2 separate regions of the Homo sapiens genome follow, and region 2 is linked to region 1. Evidence: fine-mapped expression QTL. A gene starts in region 1. The other region holds a variant in brackets. All regions are shown on one strand. Distances are between the middles of the regions.

The links. PIP is the estimated chance that this variant, and not a neighbour inherited with it, causes the effect. A credible set is the group of variants that fine-mapping cannot tell apart.
Region 2: its variant is the best candidate, but not a certain one, in a credible set for the expression of LDLRAD2 in skeletal muscle (GTEx, PIP 0.68).

What each region holds. Positions count from the first base shown.
Region 1 is chr1:21,809,663-21,815,036 of GRCh38, forward strand. It overlaps LDLRAD2 (low density lipoprotein receptor class A domain containing 2), which reads left to right and starts at 2,603. Exons shown (of 5, transcript NM_001013693.3): 1 at 2,603-2,874; 2 at 4,736-5,161. The coding sequence starts at 2,790. RefSeq lists silencers at 1,089-1,239, 4,968-5,087 and an enhancer at 2,394-2,688.
Region 2 is chr1:21,946,170-21,951,543 of GRCh38, forward strand. No RefSeq gene overlaps it. Among named protein-coding and RNA genes, the nearest start is that of HSPG2, 12 kb to the left of the region's middle. The variant G/A (reference allele first, on the strand shown) is at 3,034.

The sequences.
Region 1 (5,374 bases):
TATAATCCCGGCCGGGCGCGGTGGCTCACTCCGGTAATCCCAGCACTCTGGGACGCCGAGGTGGGCGGATCACCTGAGGTCAGGAGTTCGAGACCAGCCTGACCAACATGGTGAAACCCCCATCTCTACTAAAAATAAAAAATTAGCTGGGTGTGGTGGCACACACCTGTAGTTCCAGCTACTCGGGAAGCTGAGGCAGGAGAATCTCTTGAACCCGGGAAGCAGAGGTTGCAGTGAGCTGATATCATGCCACTGCACTCCAGCCTGGGAGGTTGCAGTTAGCTGAGATCATGCCACTGCACTCCAGCCTGGGCAACAGAGTGAGACTCCATCTCAAAAAAAAAAAAAAACAAACAAAAGGTCGGGCGCGGTGGCTCACGCCTGTAATCCTAGCACTTTGGGAGGCTGAGGTGGGTGGATCACAAGGTCAGGAGATCAAGACCAGTCTGGCTAACACGGTGAAACCCCATCTGTACTAAAAATACAAAAAATTAGCCGGGCGTGATGGCGGGTGCCTGTAATCCCAGCTACTTGGGAGGCTGAGGCAGGAGAATGGCGTGAACCCGGGAGGCGGAGCTTGCAACAAACCAAGATTGCGCCACTGCACTGCAGCCTGGGCGACAGAGCAAGACTCAGTCTCAAAACAAAAACAAAAACAAAAACAAAACAAAACAAAAACCATATAATCCCATGCAGGTGATGAGTTCTGAAGTTTAAGCTTCAGTGGGCTTCATGATAAATTCATTCTTGCTGAGGGAAGATTTGAGTCTTTTTGGAGTTCCCCAAGGTACAGATTTGGACATCATACACTGTAGGAAATCAAGGTTGCATCAAATGACCGCTCCAGGAGGGAGAGCTGTTAGGGAATAATAGGTCCAGAGGTGTTTGTTTTGGGTTTTTTTTTTTTTTTATTTTATCGCCCAGGTTGGAGTGCAGTGGTGCAATCTCGGCTCACTGCAATCTCCGCCTCCCGGGTTCAAGCGATTATTGTGCCTCAGCCTCTGTGCCACAACGCCCGGCTAATATTTGTATTTATAGTAGAGATGGGGTTTCACCATGCTGGCCAGGCTGCTCTCGAATTCCCAACCTCAGGTGATCGCCTGCCTTGGCCTCCCAACGTGATGGGATTACAGGTGTGAGCCACTGTGCCCGGCCAGGTCCAGAGGTCTTAACCTTCTCATGGATTCCTGGGATTTTGAGGTGGTGTCTCAGGCACTGCCAATTTGGGCTGCTTAGCTCCTCCCCTCCCCCACACTTGAAACATCTGCTTAAATAATAACGATGACATTAATGATCATCATTCAAGCTGAAATACATTGGTTACTTTACTACATGATAGACACTATTCCAAGTACCCCACTTGTATTAAGTTACTTAATTCTTTTTTTTTTTTTTTTTTTGAGATGAAGTCTCACTCTGTTGCTCAAGCTGGAGTGCAGTGGCACAATCTCAGCTCACTGCAACCTCCACCTCCCGGATTCAAGCGATTCTCCTGCCTCAGCCTCCTGAGTAGCTGGGACTACAGGAATGCACCACCATGCCCGGCTAATTTTTTTTGTATTTTTAGTAGAGATGGGGTTTCACTATGTTGGCCAGGCTGGCCTTGAACTCCTGACCTTGTGATCCACCCACCTCTGCCTCCCAAAGTGCTGGGATTACAGGCATGAGCCACCAAGCCAGGCCAAGTTACTTAATTCTTACAATGCAACTATGTGGTTGGAATTAATCATTATCCCATTTTCCAGAGAAGGATGCCAGGGCTTGAAAAGCTTCAGTTTTATAGATAAAGGTTCCTTGTAACATACCTTTTGAAAAAAAATTGTTCTACTAATAACACGTTTTGAAAAAGTCTGAATTAGTCCAGGGTATTTATTTTACACATGGGAAAGTAAAATCCAGAAAAAGGGGTCATTTGTTCAATGCCACACACTTATTCTTTCATTATTTCCTGGGCGCCTGCCTTGTGCCAGTGACTGTGCTATGACATAAGGGTTCAGAGGTAAACAAGATACTCATGGAATATAATTTTAGTGGAGGCCAGTGGACAATATATACAAGAAGAAATGAATAGGCAAAATAATTCCAGACAGTGCTGGGATGATACATTTGAGATGTGATTGAGTGACAAAGAGAGAGAGTGTTAATTTAGTTGGAGAGGTGGTCAGGAGAGTGTGGTCTGTGGAGGTAACATGTGAGCCACAACCTGATGACCTGAAGAAGTCAGCCGTGCACTGCTATGGGGGGACAACACTCCAGACAGAGGGATCTATGAGTGCAAAGGCCCTGAGGCAGGAATGGCTTGTTAGTAATACAGCAGACTCCTGGTCCAGTGCTCCTTCTCTGCCTGCTGCTCTCTAGGCCCTCAGAGAGGCTCCTTTGGTGTCCTGGACCTCCCTCAAGCTCAGTCCCTAAGGGGCCAGCTGATCTAGGAAGGTAGCAGATCTGGCTTCCTGTGGGTCCTCCTCCCAGAAGCCCTATGGCTGAACCGGATCTGAGTTTCCTGGTTCCTGTCTGGCAGAAGGGGAGCAGATCTCCTCCCTGCCTCCTCTCCCCAGGCTCTAGCCCTTGCTCCAAATCTCCATGGCAACCCCTGGACACAGTTCTGAACCAAATGAAGAGGATCTGGAAGGCAAAGCACTAAGATCATAGTGAAGACTTGCCTCCCCCTTCTCCTTGTGTCCCACCAGCCTCCCTGCTGGCCTGACCAGGCCCCATACTCCAGTCTCCCCAGAGACCCCAAGCTGAAGATTCTGTGGGTCTGCCCCATTGCTGGGCACAGCAGAGCCTGGATGGAGGCTTGTTGTCTTCTGCAGTTGCCCCAAAGGTTGCTCTTGCTGGGGGCAGCCGCCCTGACTGCAACTGCTTTGGAGACAGGTAAGTATCAGGGGGCTTGGTTGGGGCACCCAGAAGACTTGGGCCCCCACCATCCTTAGAGACTATGTTTCCCCAGTCAGCACTCATCCTGCTGGGCTGAGACCTTTTGAGCTGGGGGAGGCTGGGAAACTGTGTCTGGTCTTGCTTGGCATCCCCAAATCCAACCCAAAGCCTTCTGGAAGGCTTGGATCTGCCAGTCACCTAGAAGCAGGAGTCTGGGAGTGGGCAGGACAGCCCTCAGGGCCTGCTTTGCAAAACTCTGTAGGCTTCGGATTCAGAGAAGCTGCATTTACACACTCTGCCACTTCTTATGTTTGTACCTTTGAGATCATTGTTTCAACTCTCTGAATTTCTTTGGCAGTAAAATGAAAATAATAGGCCCTTGCCCCTTAAGGGACTATGATTATTGGCATATAAGATGAGATAAGTCATGCAAGGCACTTCATAATACCTGGCACATAAAAGGTGCCAAATTCCCGGCTGGGCGCAGTGGCTCACGCCTGTAATCCCAGCACTCTGTGATGCCGAGGCGGGCGGATCATGAGGTCACGAGATCAAGACCATCCTGGCCAACATGGTGAAACCACATCTCTACTAAAAATACAAAAATTAGCTGGGCATGGTGGCATGTGCCTGTAATCCCAGCTACTTGGGAGGCTGAGGCAGGAGAATCGCTTGAACCAGGGAGTCGGAGGCTGCAGTGAGCCGAGATTGCGCCACTGCACTCCAGCCTGGCAACAGAGAGAGACTCCGTCTCAAAGAAATAAAAAAAAAAAAGGGTGCCCAATTCCCTTACTCTCTAAACTCCATGCCTGCCCTGTGTACCTTCAGGGTAGGCTCTGGCTTTAGCAGAGAAATACCAAATATTGGAAAGTGCTCCCACATCCTGAGCTCTGATGAAGGATTTTTTCCTCAAAGACCCACATCCTGGCTGGTCCTCAAGTACCCACTGGTCCCTATCTTGCACCAGAAAACCCACCTCCTCTTTCCTCTCTGTGCTTACAGAAATCAGGGCTACTTTGAGTACTTGCACATCTTCTCATTTAATCCTCACAACAACCCTGTACCAGTGAGGATGTTTTGGGCTGTAAGTAACAGATAACAAACTAAATGGGGCTTAAATGGTAGGATATTTGCTATTTCAGTTAAGAGTGGTCATAGGTGATTCCAGAGATGGTTAACTCAACGGCTCAACAATGTCACTGTTCCTCTGAAATGCTCTGACCTCATCTTTGCAAAATGGCTGCTGCAGCTCTGGACATCCCATCCTCATCCTCAGTCAGCAGCTTTCAAAAGCAGGAAGAAAAGGGGCTCCTTATCACACAGCTCTCCCCCTCCCCTTTTTTTTTTTTGGTGACGGAGTCTCGCTGTGTTACCCAGGCTGGAGTGCAGTGGCTTGATCTCAGCTCACTGCAACCTCCGCCTCCAGAGTTCACGCGATTCTCATCCTCAGCCTCTCGATTAGTTGGGATTACAGGTGCGCACCACCATGCCCGGCTAATTTTTTGTATTTTAGTAGAGATGGGGTTTCACCATGTTGGCCAGGCTGGTCTCGAACTCCTGACCTCAGGTGATCCACCTGCCTTGGCCTCCAAAGTGCTGGGATTACAGGCGTGAGCCACTGCGCTCGGCCCCGCATCTTAGGGTTTCGAATAAGGGATTGTAGATTTGAATTAAATTAAATTAAATCATTTAATCCTTACAATCATTCTGAGATTGATTAATCATCCCCATTTTACCGATGAGGAAAATGAGGCTCAGAGAGGGCGAGTAACTCGCTTGGGATCACACAGCGGGCAGGGGACAGAGTAGAGTTCGGGGTCGCGCCGCGCGGCTCCAGTTTCCGTGCCTTCCGCTGCAGCCGACCTGGCGGAACTGTGCGGGCAGACGTGGCAGGGGGACGGGCTGCTGCTGCGCTCGCACGCCGCATCGCGCAGGTTCTACTTCGTGGCTCCGGACACCGACTGCGGGCTCTGGGTGCAGGCGGCAGCCCCCGGCGACCGGATCCGCTTCCAGTTCCGCTTCTTCCTGGTCTACAGCCTGACCCCCGCGCCCCCGGCGCTCAACACCTCCTCCCCGGCCCCGGCCGACCCGTGCGCCCCCGGCTCCTACCTGCAGTTCTACGAGGGCCCGCCGGGGGCGCCCCGGCCCCTGGGGTCCCCACTGTGCGGCCTGAACATCCCGGTGCCTGTGGCATCCTCCGGACCCTTTCTAGGCCTGCGCCTGGTCACGAGAGGCCGCCAGCCCCGCGTGGACTTCGTGGGCGAAGTCACCTCTTTCCGTCTGGGTGAGCTGGGGCTGAAGGCCGGGACGGGACCCTCTGCAGAGGCCATGCGGGACTGGGGCCACAGTGGGGGCCCCGGTGAGGGCCGCTGCCGACAGGGGAATGGCAGGGGTGCCCGAAGCACAAGATGGCAGGGACTGGGTCCAACGGGAGGGAAGAAGGTGGTGGCTAGTGGCAGAGTCACAATAAGGGACCTCCCGGATCCTAAGAGCCAAC
Region 2 (5,374 bases), 140 kb after region 1:
ATAAGTGGGAGCTGGCCGGGCATGGTGGCTCATGCCTGTAATCCCAGCACTTTGGGAGGCCGAGGCAGGCGGATCGCCTGAGGTCAGGAGTTTGAGACCAGCCTGGCCAACATCATGAAACCCCATCTCTACTAAAAATACAAAAATTAGCCAGGTGTGGTGGCAAACACCTGTAATCCCAGCTACTGGGGAGGCTGAGGCAGGAGAATCGCTTGAACCCGGGAGGCGGAGGTTGCAGTGAGCTGAGATCGCGCCATTGCACTCCAGCCTGGGCGACAAGAGTGAGACTTCATCTCAAAAAAAAAAAAAGTGGGAGCTAAGCTGTGAGGATACAAAGGCATAAGAATGACATAATGGACTTTGGGGACTTGGTAGGGGGAAGGATGGGAGGGGGGTGAGGGATAAAAGACTACACACTGAGTACAGCGTACACTGCTCAGGTGATGAGTGCACCAAAATCTCATAAATCACCACTAAAGAACTTATGCAGCTAAGCAAACACCACCTCTTCCCCAAAACTATTGAAATAAAAATAAATAAATAAAAAGAAGCTGTACTTTGGATGAAAAGGACACTGGCCGAGAGTTAGAACCCTGGGTTGAAATCCCAGCTCTGCAATCAGCTGCAGGCGCTTGGGCAGTCACTTCCTCTCACTAAGCCTCAGTTTCCCCCTCTTCAAAATGGGGCACTGAAACCTAGCCTGGCAAGCTGGGGAGGGTTGAGAGCCTGCGTTTCAGGCCTCGGCAGCATGCCTGGCACACAGCGTGAGTGCTCAATGAGCGACGTACTTCTGCAAGTGTGAAAGACTTTCCTCGGCCACTCCCAGCCACGGGGACACCAAGGCCACTCCTGAACACAAGGGGGACAGTACAGCAGGCTGTGGCATTGTCTGCAGCCAGCATGCTGCTTCCTGTTTACATGGACCCTGCAGATGCATGGCTTGAACTGTAGACCTGGGAGGCTTCCTGTGGCCTCTGCATGGCCAGGTGGAGCAGAGGACCTTCCCTAACAGGCTTATTTTCCCTGAACTCTGGCTGAATAACTTGTGGAAGGGATTTGTGAACAGTAAGTATCTATCCTGAGAAGCAGTTTGGGCAAAGGGCTGAGATCCTGTCTCTCTGGGATACAATCCAAACCCCAACCAATGGGAAAACCTCATTTGAGCACCTACTCAGTACGAGGCTCTATAATGACATCTACCATTCATTGAGCACCTACTGTGTGCATTTGCAGAACACCTTGCATTTGCAAGATGTTGTCCCTGTGAAGATAATTATATTATTGTGTACCTATTCTGCATATAGTACTCCGTAATGTTAATACCGAATATTTTCTGAAAAGCCAATGTGTTCTATGCACTTTAATCATCTTTATCATACTCATTTATACCCGACCACTCTGTGCCTCAGTTTGCTCATCTGTAAAATAAGGATAATGGTACCATCCTTAAAGAGTTGCTGTGCGGCCGGGGGCGGTGGCTCATGCTGTAATCCCAGCATTTTGGGAGGCCAAGGCGGGTGGATCACTTGAGGTCAAGAGTTCGAGACCAGCCTGGCCAACACGGTGAAATCCCGTCTCTACTAAAAAATACAAAAATTAGCCAGACATGGTGGCAGGCACCTGTAATCCCAGCTTCTCAGGAGGCTGAGGCAGGAGAATCACTCGATCCCAGGAAGCAGAGGTTGCAATGAGCCAAGATTGTGCCACTGCACTCCAGCCTGGGCGACAGAGCGAGACACCGTCTCAGAAAAAAAAAAAAAAAACAGGCTGGGCTCAGTCGCTCACACCTGTAATCCTAGCACTTTGGGAGGCTGAGGCGGGTGGATCACAAGGTCAGGAGTTTGAGACGAGCCTGGCCAACATGATGAAACCTCATCTCTACTAAAAATACAGAAATTAGCTGATGTGGTGGTGCACATCTGTAATCCCAGCTGCTCAGGAGGCTGAGGCATGAGAATCACTTGAACTCGGGAGGCGGAGGTTACAGTGAGCCAAGATTGAGCCACCACTCTAGCCTGGTCAGCAGAGTGAGACTCCATCTCAAAAAAAAAGAAAAAAACAAAAACCAAAACCAAGAGCTTAATTAATGTTGGCTGTCATCATTACTATTGTTAATTATTGAACATCCATTACATGAGACCCTGTAATCATCCTTAAGATAATAGTAGTTATTATTACTGGGCACCTATTGAGTGCAAGGCTTGTAATCAACATTAATCTAATATTCAAGTCCCTATCATGAGCCAGAAGCGGGCTAGATACTGGAGACCTTAAGAGCAGCACCCTAGGCAAGGATCTTACACTCTCACTGGGAGAAAGTGCACCGTTTTGGAGGTGAGCATCTCCAGGAGAGTCAGGGACAGACCGCTCTGAGGCCTCTGAGAGCCAGGAAAATACAGCCCTGGAATGAGAAGGGTGGCTTTAGATGGCCAGACAGAGGCTTTGGGAGTCGGGACACCCTTGAACTGTCTCTTGAACTAGGCCAAATGGATTCTAACAAGCTGTGTTCCTGCGAATGTTCACCTGGGGAATGGGTCTCTGGCAAGATGAGGACCCACCAGACTAAAGCCAAAGTCTTCTCCCTGAGGAGGGAAGGGGTGCAACAGAGAAAGGAGTATGCCACATGCTCCACTGTGGGCCCAGGGAGGATTGCCCTTGTCCTCCAGAGATGGAATAGAAGGGAGGGTGAATTCAGTGGGCCAGGAGTTTGGCCCCTTCCCTCCTCCTGCCCTGGGACCACTGTGGTGATCTCATGGTGGGGATACTCAGGTTTGTCACTTTCTCTGACTGGCCACTGCCTCCAAACACCGTGGAACCTGGTGGGCCTCCAGGTTCTGCATTATCTCAAGGTCAGCCCCATTCTGAAGTCTGAGCTGCTATTGGCCTTCACATTGCCAGGGTGATGAGGAGAGCTCAAGCAATAAGAAACCTGAAGCCTGAAGTTCATCACCATATAGAAATGGGCCCTGAGGCCTGAAACGGCACCTGGTTAGCCTGGGAAGATGGCTCAGGGTACAGGAGGCCTGAGTTCTT[G/A]GGTGCAGGTACTCTCAATCCTCAGCCTGAGAGGCTCCAGGCCTGGCCTGGTTCCCAAGAGAAGACACTCAGAAACATCAGAGTCTAAGGGCCCTTAGAGATCATCAGAGCTACTGCACCCTTGTTACAGATGGGGAATCCGAGGACTGGAGTGAGAAGTGGTATATCCAAGATCTCAGGGCAGGTTAGTGGTGGGACTAGGCTGGAATCCCTGTCTCCAGGGTCCCTTAGCCAGCAGGATGGTGGGTTGCTGAATGCCCTATGTTCCAGCACCAGACTCAGTTGGGTCTCTGAAGGAGCTCAGTTGGAGTTCTTGGTGGCCCAGGGAACATTTTCCCAGATATTCCCAGCAAGAAATTCAGCGTAGTGGGAAAAGGGGACCAGCTCATCTTGATCCTTCCAGCCCTCCCCTGGCACAGACAGAACCACTCTGCAGAGATTTCCCAAAAAGGGCCATCCCACTATCTGCTACTGTGCCTCGTGGACTGTTCCAGTGCCTCTCACACTAGCCACCAGGAAGCTTTACTCTATGTCTAACCTAGGCCCTGATCATTAAAATCACACCTTTAAAAGAATAAACATATATCAAGAACTTAGAACAGTTCCTGCTATATAATAAGTACTCTATGAGTGCTTGTTATTTTTCTTATAATTCGTATTAATTAAACATTTCTGCTCACATGGGACTGTGCTAAAATCAACAATCCTGAAAAGAGAGGAATACGCATAGGAGTTGGGAATGGACAGCCAGTCTGTTTCTTCACATGGGGCAACCAAGGCTAAGGGAGGACAGCAACCTCCTCAGTGATCCATTCAGGATCTAAACCAGAGATTCCAAGCCGAGACCTGTGGGTTTTACATTTAGCCTGCAAGTATTTTTTTTCAGCCCACAGAGCATCCTGACATATTTGAATTTGTCGCTGACATATAAAATCAGGTCCCTGAGGCTGGGCACGGTGGCTCATGCCTGTAATCCCAGCACTTTGGGAGGCCGAGGCAGGCAGATCATGAGGTCAGGAGTTCAAGACCAGCTTGGCCAACATGGTGAAACTCTCTCTCTACTAAAAATACAAAAATTAGCTGGGCGTGGTGGCGTGTCCCTGTAATCCCAGCTACACAGGAGGCTGAGGCAGGAGAATCGCTTGAACACAGAAGGCGGAGGTTGCAGTGAACTGAGATTGCACCACTGCACTCCAGCCTGGGCAACAGGGCGAGACTCAGACTCAAAAAAAAAAAAAAAAATCAGTTCCCTGGATTTTCTTATAAGGCCTCAACCTGTTCGAGAGGCGGGTTGAGACTAGGCAGTCCCTCTCCACCCATCCACAGTCTATCATTCCCTGCTACTGCCCTGCCTGAAATTCTCTCATTTCACTTTTCCCTGCCTGGCCCCAGAGGCCCTTGAGTTTATAACCCTAATCTAAATGGCCATTCCCCTCCAACAAAGTCTTAGAAGAAGTATTTTGCCACAGACGATTTATTTTCCACAACTGTGGCCTGAGGGGCATGTGCACGTTTCACAGTTGGCGTCAGTGTCACCACCAGCTTGGGGGTTTGGAGATGGGCTCAGGGTCACTCCAGCCTGAGCAGATTGCTTCCCAGACCTTGGGCAGACAACCTAAGGCAAAGAGCCCATTGCTAAGCAAAGGGAGCTCAGGCAGCTTTGTACGTGGACCCCGTGGCAGCGCGATAGTGAAGTTCTGGCAATGAGACCTGCACGGATAACTCGTGTTGGTGGAGTCATCCAGGCACTGCAGGGCACTGGCACCCCTGAGGGACAGCACCATGCAGGTGCTGGTGGTGGAGTTGTTTGGGATGGTCACGCTGGTGCTGGGGCTGGAGTAACTCTGGGGCAAGGGGTGGTCCTGGTGGTCTAGGTTGAGGGAGCTGGCAGCCCTTTCCAGGTAGTTGGCTGCAAGCTTTGGCAGGCTCTGCAATGTCTTGTGGCAGCTGTTATAGGCATTGGTGGATTGGTCCAGGTAGTTGATGCCTTTGATGAGCTGGAGGAGTGGGGCTGGAGGAGTCCGAGGGACAATCCTTACAGAGCAGGCAGCAGGGGCTGCCCTGGAAAGCGGTCTTTCTGGCCACCTTGGGGTTCACCAGGTGACTTGTTTCTACCTACTTGGAGTAGCAGGGCCGGCCCATGCAGATTCTCCCCAGTGGAAGCCTAGTGGGGTTGAAGGGCTGCTCAGAGCAGCTGCTGCAGCTGCTGGACTCCAAGCCAGAGCCACTCCGGGTGTGGAGGCGCTTGAGGCTCTTGGCCTCATTCAGGAGGGTGCGTTTGGTCCAGCCTGGAATTTGGGCTGGAAAGGATGTGTTGTTGGGATGGCCCAAGCGGCCGTGA